Linked DNA regions of Homo sapiens. The protein of the gene in region 1 purifies or fractionates together with the protein of each later gene. This does not show direct contact. Each region holds a gene or a part of one and is shown in the gene's direction. Other genes may lie near its edges. The genes, in order: BEND3 and TNIK.

The links.
Region 2: the proteins of BEND3 (region 1) and TNIK purify together in Homo sapiens (affinity purification with mass spectrometry; 2 studies listed by BioGRID and IntAct, with this or other methods). This does not show direct contact.

Annotation. Positions count from the first base shown.
Region 1 is NC_000006.12:107,113,408-107,117,320, reverse strand, and holds the start of BEND3 (BEN domain-containing protein 3), read left to right. Parts: upstream 1-1,805; 5' UTR 1,806-2,231; intron 2,232-2,888; exon of another isoform or gene 2,889-3,441; intron 3,442-3,913. UniProt on the Homo sapiens protein: Transcriptional repressor which associates with the NoRC (nucleolar remodeling complex) complex and plays a key role in repressing rDNA transcription.
Region 2 is NC_000003.12:171,453,538-171,457,450, reverse strand, and holds part of TNIK (TRAF2 and NCK-interacting protein kinase), read left to right. Parts: intron 1-3,913. UniProt on the Homo sapiens protein: Serine/threonine kinase that acts as an essential activator of the Wnt signaling pathway. Recruited to promoters of Wnt target genes and required to activate their expression. May act by phosphorylating TCF4/TCF7L2.

The DNA of each region.
Region 1 (3,913 bases):
AAGATTGGTTAAATATATATCCCCTCACTACACACGTTTCATCTAGTCCTCTTTCCAAAAATTTAACAAGGTCGTTTTACATTCTTAAAGCACCACAGCAAAGTGATTTAAATGCAAAATGTGCTTAAGTGCTACTTAACTATTCCTAACTCTTCTACTGGGAAATCCTAGAAAACTGAACTAATGAAATGCAACTTCTACTTTAAAAATTCTAATTATAACTGTCACATTAAATTGAAGGTGAGAATAAAACTGGTGTATCTGTTAACTAAGTCAAGCGATGTACTGTGTCGTACGTGTTATTTAATGTGCAAGTGTAAAAGTCAAGTTCTCTGCAGAAATCGAAGTGCCTCCCCTCAGTCTTCTGCGAATGTATAAATTAACCATTCTCCCCCAAGCAGTCCTCCTCCCTTCCTCCCTCCGCCCTATTTTAAATGTAGATAGGGCGACCTAAGTCTTTTGAATTTGAAGGGCTGCTATCTCGGCCCCATTCTTTTCATCATCCTGTTTTCAATGACACTGAGCACGTATAGATTCTTCTATAAAAGCACCCCCTGGATGCAGGGCTTGGTTCTTCAGGCTGCTTGCTTAATTTTGCATAGCAATTAGTACTGACTTCACTAAACCAGTAATCCAAATACAGCTCGAGAATGTTCCACGTAGTTCCTCAAACTTAACCCTGTGCCTTTTGATTTCAAGCCCGAAGGGGGGGAACTTGCATAATTACTAAATTCCCAATTGGAGTGGTCTGAAGGAGGGTACGGTAAACCCAAACTATACGTTAATTCAAACCCTCGCCGCGACTGGGCAGCAAGGAGCCAACATATGCCTTCTTTTAAAAATCTATTCTACCTATTCACTGACCGCGCAGGGCCGTGCCACATGGTCCTCCCTTGCAGCCAGTCAGCTGTGAGCAGCAGATGGGATCATTTGCATTTTTCTTTTTATACTTTCTTTGATCGGCAAATTAAAGGATTTTTCTTAAATTTACATTCTCATTGTTTGCCTAAAATACAAACGTGGCTAAACTGTTGAATTGGGCTTCCCTGACTCTCACCCAGCACCTCCCCCTCCCCCTACCCAGCCACTGAGACTTGAGAAAATACCCGAGGGGTAGATTTCGTATTTATCAACTGGGAATCTACAGTCCAAGAGTTAGGAGTAGACAGAATCAGCCTTTATTGAGTTGGTGACTCGTGTTTTTCTATTTTAGGCGCTCGGCGCAGACAGCCCGTGGGTTTGTGTTTGTGGGGTGTGTGTCTGTGAGCGCGGGCGCTTCCGAAGCTCTCGCTCCGCAGCCTCACACCCCAGAACTTCGGGTTGCAAGAGCAGATTTTAGCTCTGAGGCTCACAACAGAGGGCGGCCACCGTGCAGGGGGAGTGGCCAGAGCCAGCTTTTCCCAGCGCCAGGGTCGCTCTCCCGGGTCCCGCCGGACTCCATGCCGCCCCGCGGGGCCGCAGGAGCCACCCGGGCCCTCGCGCCCCAAGGTCTTTGTGCCGGTGGCGGCGCGGGAAGACCGGCCCCGGGGGCCTGGGCTGCGGCCCAAAGGCCAAAAATGCGGGAGAGGCGTGGGCGCGAGGCGGGACAAGCTCCGCACAGTCGCCGTCCCGCAAGGGGCAAAAAAGTAGAAAAAGCCGTTTGGGGCCAAACTCTCGGGTCTGAGAAACCACGTTTCCGAGGACGAACTCGCGGTGGGAGGACACATGGGGTACAGGGGACATTGTTCGCGGCGCCTGCCCGGCGCGCCGTGGGTGCGCGGCCGCCGCCCCCGCCCCGGGCAGCCAGCGCGGGCCCACGTGGAGCCACTGCGCTGGCCGAGCGCGCCGGGCCGCCTGGGTCCCGGGAGTGCGCGCCCGAGCTCCCCGCCGCGGCCGTTCACGCCCGAGCGCCGCCGCCGCCGGTCCCGCGTGTGCCCCGCTGAGGGGGAGGGGCGGGCCGGGGGTGGGGGCGGAGGGGTTGTGGTTCCACTGCAGCGGGGGCTCCTGTGTCCTTGTGCGGAAATGACACACGGAGTCCCGTCACGTCACGCGAGAGCGCAGCGCACGGACACACACAAAGAGAGGGGAAAATACACGGCGCTCGCCCGCCCGCCGCCCCCAGCGCCTCCCCGGGCCGCCCTGGCCAGGCCCTCCGCGCGCGGCCCCCACTCCCCGGCCCCGCGCCCTCCCCCCCACGTGGCGCCCAAACTCGGCGCGGGCCCGCCCGGCAAAGTACAGAACTCGCGTCCCAGGTAAGTGCGGGGCGGATCAAGCCGGCCGCGCGGCGGCGGCAGCGTTGGCGGCTCCGGGGCGAGCGGCCGGTAGAGTGGCTGCAACATCCATGCCGGGGTGGGGGCGGGAGCAGGGGAGGGGACGCGGAGGGGGGCTGCTCCGAGCGCGCCCGCCGGTAGTAGCGCCCACCCCCGCGCGGGCCGAGCGACCGGAGCGGGCGCCGGGCGCCCACGGGCTCGCCGCGCCCATTGTGCTGCGCGCCCCTTTGTGCCCGCTCGGAACGCGGCGGCTCCATGGCGTTCTGGGGAGCACGCGCGCCGCGCGGGGGCGGGGGGTTCGCGCGGTGGAACCGTCCGCGCCGCCGCCGCCGCCCGCCCCACTCGCGCCGCGCGCCGGCCCCGCACCCCCGCCGGGCGCCGCGATGGAGCGGCCGGGGCGGCCGGAAGGCTCTGCCGTACTCGCGGCGGCTTGGCGCTCGCGCTCGGCGGGGCTTTGGCGGGGCACTGCTCGGCGTGTGGAAGGGGGTGTCGGAGCGGGAGCAGGGGGCGGGGACTGGAGGGAGATGCCGGGCGGCGAGCGGGAGGCCGGGGGAGCAGCCGCTCGGAGGAACGAAGCCTCCGGAGGCTGCAAATGGAGCGAGGCCGGCCCGCGGCGGCGGCGGCCGGGAGCGGAGAGGGATGGGCCCCGCCGCCAGGGGGCGCAGCGCTCCCTTCCCGGCCGTTCCACGGCGGTTCGCGGTTCCCGCTGCCCAGGAGCTGGAGGCGGGCCCGGCGCCTTGGGTGTGCACCCGGGCTGGCGCGAGGCCTGGCCGGCCGGCCGCAAAGCTGAAGCCTGGGGCGCTCGCCGCTCCTCGTGAGCGCTCCTTTCCTTCTCTATGATAAACGTGATTTCCCACGCATGCTTTGCCCTTGCCTCATCCGTGAGCTGTGCACCACCGATTTGGAGGCCCTTGTGTGCTTGTTTACCTACGTCTCCCTATGTAGCTATTTTAAACAAGGTGTTTTTACAGAGATAAAAGTTTTATTGATTGCTCAGGTGGTCTTTCTGGAAGAATTCTGCACGTAAACGCTAACTCGACAAGAGTGCCGGGAGGAACAAGGTTACTCACTAGAGTTGGAAATGTGCAGTTCATCTCCTTAAAGTAACTTTTGAATGGTTGAATACAAATAGTAAACATGCCACAGGGCAGCGTGGCATAGTGCCAGAAAGCTACGGTTGCAGGAAACTGAGGTAAGGAACTGAGTCCTTCAGGTAGCCAGGTATATAAACGGCTGGGATGGAGGACTTTCTCTTGTTACCCGCTCCCCACTTCCACCCTTGCAGTCCGTTTTTCTCTCTTTTTTTTTTAAACCATTCATCCCTAGATATTGGCTTTATACTACCATACAAGAGCCTGTCAAGCTTTCCTCGGTACTGGGACTTGGGCAAGATTTTTTATCTCCCTCACAGTTTCACATCCCCAGCCTCTAACCCGGTGTCTCATAACTTAGTAGGCGTTCAGTGCGTATTTCCTAAATGAATGGAGAGAGCCTCTTGGATTCTAGAGGAAAGATGGAGCCAGAGCGCCAGTTGCTGCTGCTGGGTTAGCTGGTGTCTGTGTGGCCCTTGAAATCTGTCACATCAACCTCCTGTCATGGAACATGAGTTTTTTTTTTGTTTTTTTTTTTTTTTTGAGACGGAGTCTCGCTCTGTCACCCGGGCT
Region 2 (3,913 bases), on another chromosome or scaffold:
AGAATTTGCTGCAGACTTACCAGTCCCTCGCTGTTTCGGTGGCTCTTTAATGTACACAGTCAATGCTCTTTTTGTAAACCCTGGGCTCAAAGCATTAAAAGCAGATCCTGTCTAGAGAGGCCTTTATCCTTCTCACTTTGGGGGCTTATTGTTCTCAGCCAGTGATTCCAGACCGGACCCAGTCTAAATTTTCCCCAAATAGCAACAATGCATAATTTAAACCAGAGCAACCAATGACAGCACTGATCATTTAAATTATGCAAGATTTGCATGGTTTAAAAGTGAGTGAAGCAGGATCTTCTTTGGTTAGAAAATAGGTACTTTGAATCCAGTTTTAGCCCTGATTTTTAGAGCTCAGAGATAAACTAAATCTTGAGGGATGGGCTGGAATTGTTTTATAGATTCAGAGCTGGAAAGAGAATTGTAGAACACTCAGCCACTCCTTTCATTGAACACTTGGGAAACTGAAGCCCAGAGGCGTGAAGTAAGTTGTTCAAGGTCACACAGTAACAAGGGGAGGGGACAGCGAGGAGCGTGGTTTGAGGAAATAATCTAGATTTCCTGACTCCTCATTCAGTGCTCTTTTCTCTAAGTCACACTTTCTGTGGTGGAATCAGAAATCAATAATACATTTTCTGCCTGAGTACAAAAGAATAGCAGAAAGGAATAATTTCACCAGGGTCAGGGAATTTTATTTATTGAGAATGGCGAAACTACTTCATGCAAGTAAGCTTGTGATACATGAAACCATGGAGCTCTAGGCCACCTTTGGAATTCATCTTGTCCAGCCCTGGTTCAATGCCTACTCTGCAGGCAAACGACTGTCTGAAATCACCTAGGACACATGGTTGTCCTGCACAGGTAACCTCTCTGAGTAACCTGTGTCCATCAGAGCATGTCTCAAGGGGTCAGTATAAACATACATGTTATTCAGATGGCTCTGCATGTGAGGTTTATAGAGTTGTGTGTATGTTTTGTATTATCTATGTGGATACATATATTATGTGTAGTATTATGGATATAAACCGTATCCACGTGGGTGTATGAAAATGTGTGTATACATACATAGGCTACAGCAAACAATTTACTCATTCAAACCTGGGGCTTGAGTCATTCTTGCTTCAAGACATCTCAGTATTAAAAGAGATGAAAGTTGCCACCAGTGTGCTTTATTACATATGAGGCGAGCTCAGCCCAGAAAGCTTTTTGGAGATTAGCATATTTCTGGACCTAAGCACCTTGGCTGTCCTTAACTTGGCCCACAGGGTAAGGCATTCAAGGCCAGGAGTTGGCTGCTGCTGACCTCATACTCTCAGCTTCTGCCAGGACTCACATACACTTTTGTATTTGAACAAAATTAGATGATCTACACTTGTCTTTCCCCTTAGCCCTCATTCCCTAGCCATTCCTTTCTCCATTGAAACCCAGATTTAAGAATTGACCTCATCTGAAAGCCTTGCATACATCCCTTTGCTACACTTTTCATGCTCATGTTTTACTTGGTGTGTGATTTCCTTTCTGCTTCTTTACTAAACCGTGGACTTCTTGAGGGCAGAGGCTAGATCTTGTTCATCTTTGGAGCCATAGTCTCCATTAGTTGGATGAATGAGTACGTGAATGAATGCTTGAATGAATGGAGTGGAATGAACCCTGTCTCCCCAGTTCTATGTCCACCTCTTATTCACTCTGTGACTTTGGGTAGGACATTTAACCATAGTTAATAAGAATCATCACAACTGTTTGCCTTTCTCACATACTGGTTTCAAAATCAATAAAGTATTTAAGGCAATGCTTTAAAAACCATACAGCACTGTACAAATATGCTATCCCATGGTTAAGTAGAATTTAGTGGGAAAATTGATACCATCAACATTTGATTGCAATGATTTTATCTAATAGAAAATTATCTTTCCTGGGCACAGTGGCTCACACCTGTAATCCCAGCACTTCGGGAGGCCGAAGTGGGAGGACTGCTTGAAACCAGGAGTTTCAGATCATCATGGGCAATGTAGGGAGACTCCATCTCTAAAAAAAAAAAAAAAAAGTCAGTGTGGTGGTGTGTGCCTGTGGTCCCAGCTAATTGGGAGACTGAGGTGGGAAGATAGTTTGAGCCTGAGAAGTCGAGGCTGTGATTGTGTCACGGCACTCCAGCCTCAGTGACAGAGTGACATCTTGTTTAAGAAAAAAAAAAGAAGACTAAGAAAAGAAGGAAAATAATCTTCAGAAAAAGATATCAGAAGGTTCCGACTCTTTTTAACAGTACCTCCACAGACCTTAGCTGCCTTTTTCCTTTTGTGTACCAATGTGACCTTGTATGTTTCTTTGATGGCCTGAATTGAGCTTTGCGCCCCCAGTATTAAGCATTCATTACATATGAGGTAAGTGCAGCCCTGAAGTTTTTTGGAGATTAACATATTTCTAAACTAGTATCAACTATCAGCATTGTTCATTAAAACCTTCTTTTTTAAAAAAAGTTTTCTCTCTTTATGTATTACCGATTATTCAAATACAAACACATTGATCATGACTGTGCCTTCCTAAAGTTTTATCTTTTCCCTTGGGAGATAGAGTGGACACATAAAATGATACACTAATGGCCCAGTATTTAAAACTTTCTGGTGAGAGGTCTCATGGGGCTCAAAGAAATCTCGAAACATTATTAGTTCATTACTCCAGAGCACTTAATTAAATTTGGTCTAAAATGAGATTTTAGTAAAGTTGCATGAGTTGATAACAGTATCTCAAAATGATAACAGCATGGCAATTTTTTCATTAGATATTCTTTTTATTTTTCAGAGATACTAAACAGGTGTTTTCTTTACAATGGCATTGCCTCATAAAAAGTAGGGTGTGCTGGTATTTATCAGAACATCAGAGAAATATGCATAATCATTTTCATTATTCATTATTAACTGGAGTAATCTTTAGTACAAAAGCCAGTGTAAGTCATGGTTTGCTGTTTGCATAATTATCTACTTAGGAGGTCATGTAATATTTTGTTGATGAGAGAGTACCCAGTACATTTCTTTCAGGAAATATTCCTTTTTTCCCCCTTATCTGTAAAACTCTTTGATATCTTATAATTTCGAGTCTTGCCCGTTCGGCCTTTCTTCTTTCTGTGTCTCTGCCCTGGAATTAATCTTCCGTGCCCTTCTTGTTTCGACGCCATTCCTTCTCTCAGTGATAGTGGTTCTAAAGTCCACCCAGCCAGGCGCTCCTGTGATTGAATCATGGCCGCCATGCCCAGCTGAGCACAACCAGTCTCTGATTCCCTTCCTGATAGAATCTGGAGTAACTTGAGTCTGAAAGATGCTTTAATGTCAAATTGATTCTTACATTTCTGTGGGGGAAGTAGCTCTCTGAGAACAGGGCCTAAACTGGTTTGTTAGCAGTGTGCTGAGAATTCTAAGAAAATCTTAATGATATTTTTTGAATGAAATGTTATTCTGCACATATAAATATAAGGTCTCTAGTGGAGAGAGAGGGAGGACTTAAGTAGAAAATGTTGGATGAATTCCGCTTGTGATTCCTTCCAGTCTGGTTGGAAGCTTATTTCCCTTTAGAGAAACATGATTCTATCCACTCTTTTTTACATGTCCTGGTTGTCTCATGGGGGTGCCCTCAGTTTCTCAAAACACATTTTATATCACCCCAACTTAAAATTCTTCCCTTAATGTTTATCATATGGGTCCCCTTGTCTCCACTGTTCCCTGCAAGTGCTGTAGTTACTGTCCCCTGGGCAACACCCGCAACAGGACCTCCCCTCCTCCTGTGTCTCTACCACCAGCCTTCTTCTGACTGGTTTCTCGTACACTGTAGCCACGTGAGTCTTCCAAACGCACAGTTTCAATCTGGTTGTTTTTATTCAAGGCCTTCTCTGTCTCCTTAGTCTACAGACTGAAAACTAAACTCT